2 separate regions of the Homo sapiens genome follow, and region 2 is linked to region 1. The links come from fine-mapping of genetic effects on gene expression. A gene starts in region 1. The other region holds a variant in brackets. All regions are shown on one strand. Distances are from middle to middle. Region 1 holds the start of ENPP2 (ectonucleotide pyrophosphatase/phosphodiesterase 2). Region 2 has its middle 39 kb from the start of ENPP2.

Region 1 (5,214 bases):
TAACATGGAAATAATTTACTATACACAAAATATTTTCAAAGACTAATAAATCCAATCTATACTTTTCAAGTTTTCCAGTAGTGAGCACAGAAATTCAAGAGGCAATGAAACAGAATAATTCCTGGGATTTTTTTTTTTTAATCCAGAAAGAAAAGTAGAAATCATCTAAGTCTGCTCCTCATTGTACAGCTAAGGAAACAGACTTCACAAGTGACTTGCCCAACACCACACAGCAAGTTACAGGACTCCAGGGTACCAGCCTAGGATTTTAATGACTGTTTTCCAAAAGAAGTCACCTTTAAAAATAATGAGTGACTCAATTTTACATTCATTAAGGAAACAGCATTTAATTCTTTCAATCTCAGTTTTAGCCAGAGTAATATATTAAGAGGAAACAGAAAAAAAAAGTTCCCTTTAGTGTTCATTGAAAAGAACCAGCAGTTGGCTCTCAAGTTGCTAGCTTTCCCACATGACCATGCTAAGGATCTGATTCCCCTGTCTGTTCAGTCACAGTCAGTGTTAATGGGAGTGAAAAAGAGGCCTTTGAAGAGAGCATTTGCTGCAAATAAAAACAGCATTCTCTAGCTCAGTGATCCACTGTCCTCTGCCTCCCCAACAGAAGACGACTCATTTTGTCCATTTGGCTCCCTGGGGCTGCAAGTTTTGTGATCTATTTTCTCACTCTTAACCCCGCCACACCCCACTTCAATTCACTAATTCACTTCTAATATTATTCTTTCAACCTACTGGCATGATTCAAAAGTAACTTAATTGATGTAAGGAAGATTTAGTATTCCATCAATGTATGTGTCCTAACCCGGTTGATAATAAAATTTCAAGCTGGCTAAACAGAGGCAAGTGATGGTCTTTCATAACAATCAGATCAAGACATACAGAGAAACACAAAATTCACAGGAAGACAGACAAACATGCTGGAATGTCAGGAAAAGTCCAGAAAATATTGTTCCCTAGAGTGCCCATTACTTAAAATGTAATTTTTTATTTCTAAAACCATCAGCAGCTCCAATTTCCAGGAAATTAACCAACTCATTGCTTAAGACCTGGTCAGTTAAGCCCCCTCTGTCTGCACAAGGAGCTCCTTTATAAGAACACTGTATGGGAACACTACTTATGGTGTAGTGTATTGTAAAAAGAAACTCTTTCACTTTGGTTCTATTATTTAAGTCAAGGTACACTATTAAAACTTACCTTTCCTTTGCCATAAGGACACACAATGAGGACAAATCAATCCTGAAAACTCTTTAAACACCTCCTCTCTTTTATGTTTTTCCAATTTTAAGTAAATCTTAAAGTCCTAAATTTCTGAAGTTTCATAAAGATAGCTCACTGCCTTTTTTACTTCCATTCCTTTTTCCTACATCAGAACTTTCTAGTGGCAAATACTACATCCTATATCATGTGACAGCAAATCAGATTTGGGTAGCTCCAATATTAAACCAACACCTGTTCTCACCACTTCTACTTTAGCCTTGTCTGTGAACAAGAGTTTTAATTGTATCCTAACATTTACAAATTTGAGTACAAAAATGGAAATAGCCAGTTATGAAACAATCATAAATGTTCTCTAATGAAAACCACACTCTCCCACCTGAATTATACACATAGGTGGTTTTACCCAGAGAAATTTAGGACTAACTTAGTTATACTGCAAGATTGTATTAAAAATAAATATTTTAATAAGCTTACATTGATTACCCCGTATGTAATATTTTTAAAAAATTGAAAATGCAAATAGTTTTGACACTTACCTGTAGGAGGACCTTCCTCCCATCCTTCTGCTCTCTTAATTCGATGTGCAGTGAATCCTAAGCAGATATTGACTCCAACGGCAAAAGTGAACAGGGATATTATCTAAGAGAATAAAGAGACCAAGTTGTCAAATACAGCTGGAGAAGACTAAATCAAATTACACAAAGGTGATTCAAATGGCTTCAATATCAACACCCAATCCTACCACTTCCAAAATGCATAATAAGGTGCTATCTTAATTTGCACAACAAAAAGGAAAATGCCAATCAGTCACTGATTCTGAAGATCAAGCATGTCCCCCGTCATTCCTCCGTTCTCCCACCTGACACGACTGGAACGAGCTCCTCCTTGCCATGTCGAGGATTCTTGGAAAGCCTTTTGCAGCGTGTTCTCTTTGCCTTCACGGAGTGCACTGCTTTGAGGCTCTGGGTTTAGTCTATTAACTATAAGCAATCCCACCTGGGAGGTTGACAGACTCCTCTGATTTGTCCAGAGCTTGATTACATCACAGGGTGTTCACAAATCGCAGCTCTGAGCCTAAGAGGCTTAAGCTATCATCCCCCTTATCCCCGCCCCCTTACAGGTCCCTCCCCTAACCCACAGACACTTTCATGTGGTATCCTCTGGCAACAGGAGGGTTTGTTACATTGCCGTGGCCCATAACAGTGCATGTTCATTTTCCTTTCCTCACAAAAACATGGTTTGTCAAAAAGAAACCAAATGCATTTCATCCGATAAAAATGAAAACAGGGCTGTGCAAGGGCTTTCCACCAGCTTTAAGCTTTTAAGGTTTACAATGCAGTCATTCAATGGCGTCAACCTCACCACTTTATTTTTTTAAGCAAGGAAAGTTTTATCATTTATAAACCTAATAACGTTCCTGTCTTTCCCATCTATTTATTTTGCTGGCAGTTTGAGCGACCCTGTCCCTAGTATCACATTCTCAGCTACTTCTGCCTCCTTGAAAGTTTCTCATGATGAAATTTCGCAAAATTGTAACTAACATAAAAGATAACATTATTTTCCCCATGCTGTGGTTCAAGTTTAGAGAAGTAACTTTTATCAAAATACTGGAAATGCCAGCCACGCAGCATAAAGTCCTTCTGCCCTGGGAGGACGGACAAAATAACTTCAGTCTCTGCCTCTTCTTCCCGTAAAGACTGTCAGCTTGTTTCGGGCGGGGCGGAGGAGGGGGCGGTTTTTGAGAGGCAGATGGGTGGGGGAAGGGGATGGCATGGGAAGCTTTATTAGCAATTGAATTTAGGAAGGAAATCTCAATGGCAGCAAGAATTGAAATGTCAAGAATTGTTTCCCTAGTTATTTCTTGGTTAAATGTAGCCACCAAATACTGTGTCCTTTGAGGCTATTGTGGGTACTAAAGTTTCTTTACTAAGCAATTTGGCAACCAGCACACTTTCAAAAGAAAAAATCAAGGGCTCTAAATCTGAAAGTTGTTTAAATATTACATGCCTTCAGGATTCAAATGAGGGAAAAAGATTTGTTTTTGGCCTCTTCCTCAGCAGGTCCAGTGACCATCTTTTCTTCCGCAGCACATGTGTTCGTGCGTAAACAAATACGAGACTTACCATGCAACAAATTAGTAACAGAGTAGTGGCTCTGCTCAAATAAAACATGATAGCACAAAAGCAAAAACTTGTTTATAGGGGGTTGTACAGTAGGCCTGGGTTTCATTACAGATTCTTAGAATCTAGTAATATCTAATTGAAAAAAAGAAAATACACATACTGCCAAACTGTTAATTGCCTTTCTAAAATCCTTTTAGTTTTGCACTGTTGCAAAGAGGACAGGCTTATACATTTTTATATGTAAGCCTCTTGCTTTTGTCTGTATGCCATACTGAACAAATTTGGAGTAGGGTATTTAGCAAGGCTTATAAAAGATGTTAACTCCATGAAAGATTTTCCTATAATTTATGTTAAATTTCAAGATACAAGCCAGACATGATAGAGGAAAACAATAAACCCCAAAGAAAAATATCAAGGCAATCCTGTTATTTCATTATATGCCACAGTGCTCTAAATGTTCTAAAAACAAAAACAGCCTCTTCTTTTGCCTTGCCAGAGTCTAACAACTTTTGACTTTGTCTGATATTTGATTGTATAAACCTAGCTAGAAGACAATGAGGGTTCCCTTGGAAAAAAAGTTAGGGTTCAGGAGCTGAACATCATCCATTTATTTTTCTCTTATATGCAGACTAGCTGGGCAGGGGGAAAAGCTGTAATAGCCAAGTTGATCTGCTTGTTACCCAATATCCAAAAGAGTTGACCTCAGCCACTATTTCTTTGTTTTTTTGTTTTTGTTTGTTTATTTGTTTATTTTGAGATGGAGTTTCACTCTTGTTGCCCAGGCTGGAGTGCAATGGCTCGATCTCGGCTCACTGCAGCCTCCACCTCCCGGGTTCAAGTGATTCCTGTCTCAGCCTCCCGAGTAGCTGGGATTACAGGTGCATGCCAACACGCCTGGCTAATTTTTGTATTTTTAATACAGACAGGGTTTCACCATGTTGGTCAGGATGGTCTCGAACTCCTGACCTCAGGTGATCCGCCCATCTCAGCCTCCCAAAGTGCTGGGATTACAGGTGTGAACCACCGTGCCTGGCCCTCAGCCACTATTTCTGTTAACCGTTCTGCCAAAGAACTTTGTCTTTTACCAGCTTGTTGTGCATAAGGAACATGTTAACATGAACACATACACGCACACACACAAGCATATATGTGCATACACACATCATTTTGCCACAGTTAAACAGATTTTTACTACAAGATTATTGTTATAAATTAACTGTCAGGAGAATGACCAAGATGACCAAAGTCCCTACCTCGGCTATCAAATTAACTACAAAATAAAATTATCCCTCATTACCTAAAGCTGAAAAAAAAAAACAAAAAAAAGCTTCACAGTGCATAAAGTAGGTTAAGAAATTCAACTAAAATGACTGGAATTAGTCCAAAACCTTTTGTAAGAAAACTAAATTATGAGAAGTTCACTTGCTATGGTGTTTAAGATTTTGTAATAAGGACACATGTGGCTGGCTCAGTAAACAAGAAGTGCATAAGAAAGACTGAAAAATTAAATTCCAACATGGTTTATTAGCCCAGCCATATTTCAGAGAACACTGCCCCCTGGCAGAAGAAAACCTAGAACTAGAAACAAATATTTGTCAACAGTCTCAGTCCCTAGAAATCATTCTGTGGTTTTCAAATTTTATTGGGTATCAGAATCACCCTGGAGCCTTGTTTAAAATGCTGATGTTTATGTCCTGCGTATCAAGATCCTGATTCATTAGGTCTGGCAGGTGGGGAGAAGAAAGAGGAGTTTAGAGGTCAGACAAGAACTGGCACAATAGGTTACTTTGATGAAAGTCAGATAAGAACCACGTTTATGGAGATAAGACCTGGTTCCTGCAGCAGACGTGATTGACTG
Region 2 (5,214 bases), 39 kb after region 1:
GTAGAGGTGGAGTTTCACTATATTTGCCAGGCTGGTCTCGAACTCCTGACCTGAAGTGATCCACCTGCCCTGGCCTCCCAAAGAGCTGGGATTACAGGTGTGAGCCACTGCGTCTGACCTCAGCTCCTTCTTGACAATACTTCCTCTATGTCTCCGACTAGTCTTTAATATCAATTTAGATCTGTCTCTCCTTCCACTTCAATTTGTTCATTTCTTTGTCCTACCATTGCCATACCCATCTGCAAATTCTCCACCGAAGATGTAGCTATCTGCTAGAGGTAAACATCATTCCAAAATCATGGCCATTGGCACCACCATTGATGTCTGGCCTACCCCTGGCTGGGCACTCAGCACCACCTCAGTTCTTACAAATGTCCCCAGCCAGCTCACTTCTCTAATTATGCAAAGTAACACTTCCCACCTCTTTAGAACCCTGATCCCACTCCCACCTGGCTTGCTTTCAGCAAACAAACTCTTTTCCCCCAATAAAGAACACAGTAGCTATCAGAAGGAAATTCTATTTCCTGTCCCTGCACCAGAAAAATATATCTATTCTCCACTTCTCCCTTCCTACCTCAGAGGTACCTCTTTTTCTGTGCACTGTAGATTCCCTCTCTTCCCACTTCCTATGGAAAACTCATCAACCATCGCCTTTCCTTTCAACTTCTTCTCTACTGATAACATCAGTTCATTTATTCCATAGGCATTTATAAAGCAACTATAATCAAGCGTCTTTGATTCTTCACATACACGGATAAATAAAACATTACAGCCTATAAACACATTAAAGTCCCTCCCACACACCATGTTTCCTCATGGAGTCTGAATATGTGCCAGTTCCTTGCAACAGTAACAACAACAACAGCACGTGCACCCAGCATGTGCCCACTGCCAGGAACATTCTTCCATAGATCTTCCAAGGCCAGTTTCTACTCATACTTTAGGTGCTGGCTTAATGTCACCTGCTCAAAGAGTTCTTCCTAGGATATGAACAGACACTTCTCAAAAAAAAGACATTTATGCAGCCAGCAAACATATGAAAAAAACTCATCATCACTGGTTATTAGAGAAACAAAAATCAAAACCACAGTGAGATACCATCTCATGCCAGTTAGAATGGTGATCATTAAAAAGTCAGGAAACAACAGATGCTGGCGAGGATGTGGAGAAATAAGAACGCTTTTACACTGTTGGTGGGAGTGTAAATTAGTTCAACTACTGTGGAAGACAGTGTGGTGATTCCTCAAGGATCCAGAGCTAGAAATACCATTTGACCCAGCCATCCCATTACTGGGTATATACCCAAAGGATTATAAATCATTCTACTATAAAGACACATGCACACGCATGTTTATTGCAGCACTATTCACAATAGCAAAGACTTGGAACCAATCCAAATGTCCATCAATGATAAACTGGATAAAGAAAATATAGCACATATATACCATGGAATACTATGCAGTCATAAAAATAATAAGTTCATGTCCTTTGCAGGGACATGGATGAAGCTGGAAACCATCATTCTCAGCAAACTAACACAGGAACAGAAAACCAAACACTGCATGTTCTCACTCATAAGTGACAGGTGAACAATGAGAACACACGGACACAGGGAGGGGAACATCACTCACCGAGGCCTGTTGGGGGTTGGGGGACAAGGGGAGGGAGAGCAGTAGGACAAATACCTGATGCATGCGGGGCTTAAAAACTAAATGACAGGTTGATAGGTGCCGCAAACCACCATGGCACATGTATACCAATGTAACAAATCTGCACATTCAGCACAGGTATCCCAGAACGTGAAGTAAAATTAAAAAAAAAATTACAGTGGGGCATGAGGAATTTTTGGAGATGGTAATTTGTGTTGATGATTGTACATATATATGTATGCATTTATATGTACATATGTAAGTAAATGTTAAAAAAAGAAAGAGTTCTTCCTTGACCAGCCAATCTAATGAGCCATCTTTTTCTTCGTTATTGG[C/T]TATCTTTTAACCTTTCCTGTTTCCTTCATATCAGTTATCTGATGTTGTGATGAAAAGCTTCTCAGTCTGCCCACTTGCTTATTTTCTGTTGTTTCCACTAGTCTGAACCTTCATGAGAACTGAGACTCTTATGTTTTACTCAGCACAGTATCTCGTACCTAGTAGGCAACTCAGAAAGCATTGTTGATTGTACACACCAGGTGCCAGCACCATATCTGCCTTAATCTTTTTTTTAATTTTTTCTTTATCTCTATCATACAGCCTACTGAATTTCAACATCAACTAAAATTAGAATCTCCCAGGCTCTTAACAATCTTCATGCCCAAAGCACACTCAGACCAGCTATCACTGAGGTGAGATTTAGGTAATTCCAAAAGCCAAGCTTGAGAACAACTGACCTAGCCTCTGCATGACACAAGTGAGGCTCAATAAAGGAGTGAAGAGATGAATGAATGTTCAGGGAATGGGGTCATTCAGCTTCTGCTTATCTTTAGTCCTCTTCTCCTTGGTCTCTCCCCACATAATCTGTTATCTAGGCATGCAAAGCCCCAAACAAGCCCTGCCCTCTCATTTTTCCAACCTTTCAAGTGGTGCTAGCTCTACTAAAACATCCATGCCCCAGCCTGGCTCCCTAAGGAGTTTCCCTACTGGTAAAATCTGGGTTTGGGTTCAACACAAGCTCCTCTGCCAGGCTCTGGGCCTCTTCTCTGCTTGCTCATGACATGCTATTAGTGCAGTCAAGGCTGCTTCCTGCTGCTGTGTCATGATTATTCTTGACCAAGAGCTCTTTTCTCCTGTGCCCCATGTGTGGCAGGCTGCCTAGTCAGCAATGGCATTCCACAGACGTTGTAGAAGGAAATGAAGTAACACACTTAATGAACTTTAAACGAGATGCTCTGCTTTCATTTCTGGGTGATTTTTGTTGTTGTTGTTGTTTTTAACAGCATTATTGAGACCTAGTCACATAATGTACAATTCACCAATTTAAATGGTACCATTCCATGGTTTTTAGGATAGTCACAAAAGTATATAACCATCACCACAATCAATTTTAGAATATTTCATCACTCCAAATCCAAAAGGAACCCCGTACTTATTAACAGTCATTCCCCTTGTACCCCTCATTCTCCCAGGCCTCAGTAACCATTCATAGAGACAGAATTCTGTTTCTATAGGTTTGCCTATTCTGGTCATTTCATATAAATAGAATCATACAACACCTTGTCTGTTGTGATTGGTATTAACTTCCACTTTTGAAGACCTATTTGTCTATAAGCATCACTCTCCTATTGAGTGTATACGATGGAATATGGACTCTGGTAGAGATCTTGAAGGATGAACCAAGGCAATGTTTCTTAGACCAAATTTCACAGCAGCCTGGTAAATCATCCAAATTCTTGAGCCCCAAGGTGAGAGAGTATAAGGAGGAAGGAGAATGGAGACACTTAGCTACACCTGTTACCCCAGAAGAGCAGGAAAGAGAGATGGATTTCAACAGGGCTCAGCTGTGCCTCCTACCGCCCCAGCCTGTCCCAGCTGGGCCATATGAACAGGACCTCCTGCACCATCAGGACCCCCACATTGAGGGCAAACTTCCAGAGTCAAAATCTAGATTTGCCACACATTACCTGTAACTTTTGATGTCCTGCTTCCTCATCTCTTAAAAAAGGATAGAAGTAATTCCTATTTTATAGATACCACATCATAGAATTGTGAAGATTTAATGAAAAAACACACATACAAGTGCATAGCACAGCACCTGGGACATTGTAAATACCAATGCATGTTTACACTTGTTGCTTGATCACAGCTGTTTGTATATTGTTCTTCTAAGCAATATTTAATATCGAAAGGGGGTTCTGATGCTTTAAAAAGTACTGCAAACCATTATTCTAGGAAAACTTCACATACCATGCAGGATTCTTCTGCCAGATGATCATCTGTGTTCTGCTTGCTATGAGCTAGGACAGTGGAAAGATTTAGATGAAGTTGAAGAGTAATTCACAGAAAGTGAAGGGAGAGATAGGTTACGTTCATTCCTAGCACAAAAAGTTGATGAAGGCTGGGTAGGGTGGCTCACGCCTGTAATCCCAACATTTTGGGAGGCCTAGGTGGGTGGCTTGCCTGAGGCCAGGAGTTAGAGACCAGCCTGGCCAACTTGAAGAAACCCCATCTCTATTAAAAATACAAAATTAAAAAAAAAAAAAAAAGCCAGGCATGGTGGTGAGCACCTGTAGTCCCAGCTACTTGGGAGGCTGAGGCACAAGAATTGCTTGAACCCAGGAGGTGGAAGTTATAGTGAGCCAAGATTGTGCCAGTGCACTCCAGCTTGGGTGACAGAGTGAGACTCCGTCTAAATAAATTTTTTTTTAAAGTTGATGGAAAGCATCTAATTCTTCCTACCATATATTCACCAGTACCACTAGTAGGCAGAGTCTGTTGGCTTTATGGAACTTGGTTCAGTTCACCAAGGGCAGATCATCTATTCACCTGCACCCCTCTCCCACAATTTCTTTATTTTCTTTGTACTATTTTTATGTGCCAGACCTGTATGTGCTGTCTCCTAAATAGATCTGAATACAAGCCCTCAGGAGGTGTCTCCAAAATACACCTGAAATCGGCCCTTGGGGTGCTGACCCTCCGTAGGCAATCTACTGGTCAGATACAACCATCTGTCTGCATCAGACAGTGCAGCAAGGAGCCACAGGGTATCTTGATTTTGCTGTCAGCTGGTCAGACAATTATCCTGCAAGCTCCCGGGGAGCTGTTCTTGCATGTAAGCCTCACATGTCTATTTCAAGTTGTGTAGCATAATTAGTGGACCTTTGTCTCACTTCCACTGCTTTGAATGGGCTTGCCTGCACATCTGGCAAACCTTTGCTCAGATTCCGCTCCACCATCCCTCATGACGTTCCCTTCTCTATGATTCCCCAGCTAGGACAGCTCCTAGGACAGTGCCCGGTTGTCACCTGTGTATAAGACCAACTCTGCTGCTGCACTGTGAGCATTAGTAAGGACCTTTTTCCTTTATCTTTGTGTCTCCCAGTCTAGCCTTGGGTCTAGCACAAAAAATGCTCATTCCTCCCTTTGACAGATATGCATTGAGATCCTATTGTGGGCTGAAACTTCAAAATGCAAACATTTCATGAAAGCATGGAATTTTAACTCTGAAAGGAATTTCGAGAGACCAAAGGAGGCCCCAGAGAAAGTAGGTCTTATTGAGCGTCCC

The links. PIP is the estimated chance that this variant, and not a neighbour inherited with it, causes the effect. A credible set is the group of variants that fine-mapping cannot tell apart.
Region 2: its variant is the best candidate, but not a certain one, in a credible set for the expression of ENPP2 in whole blood (TOPMed, PIP 0.79).

What each region holds. Positions count from the first base shown.
Region 1 is chr8:119,636,656-119,641,869 of GRCh38, forward strand. It overlaps ENPP2 (ectonucleotide pyrophosphatase/phosphodiesterase 2), which reads right to left and starts at 2,184. Exons shown (of 25, transcript NM_001040092.3): 1 at 2,093-2,184; 2 at 1,770-1,872. The coding sequence starts at 2,125. RefSeq lists a silencer at 2,300-2,399.
Region 2 is chr8:119,675,474-119,680,687 of GRCh38, forward strand. No RefSeq gene overlaps it. Among named protein-coding and RNA genes, the nearest start is that of ENPP2, 39 kb to the left of the region's middle. The variant C/T (reference allele first, on the strand shown) is at 1,985.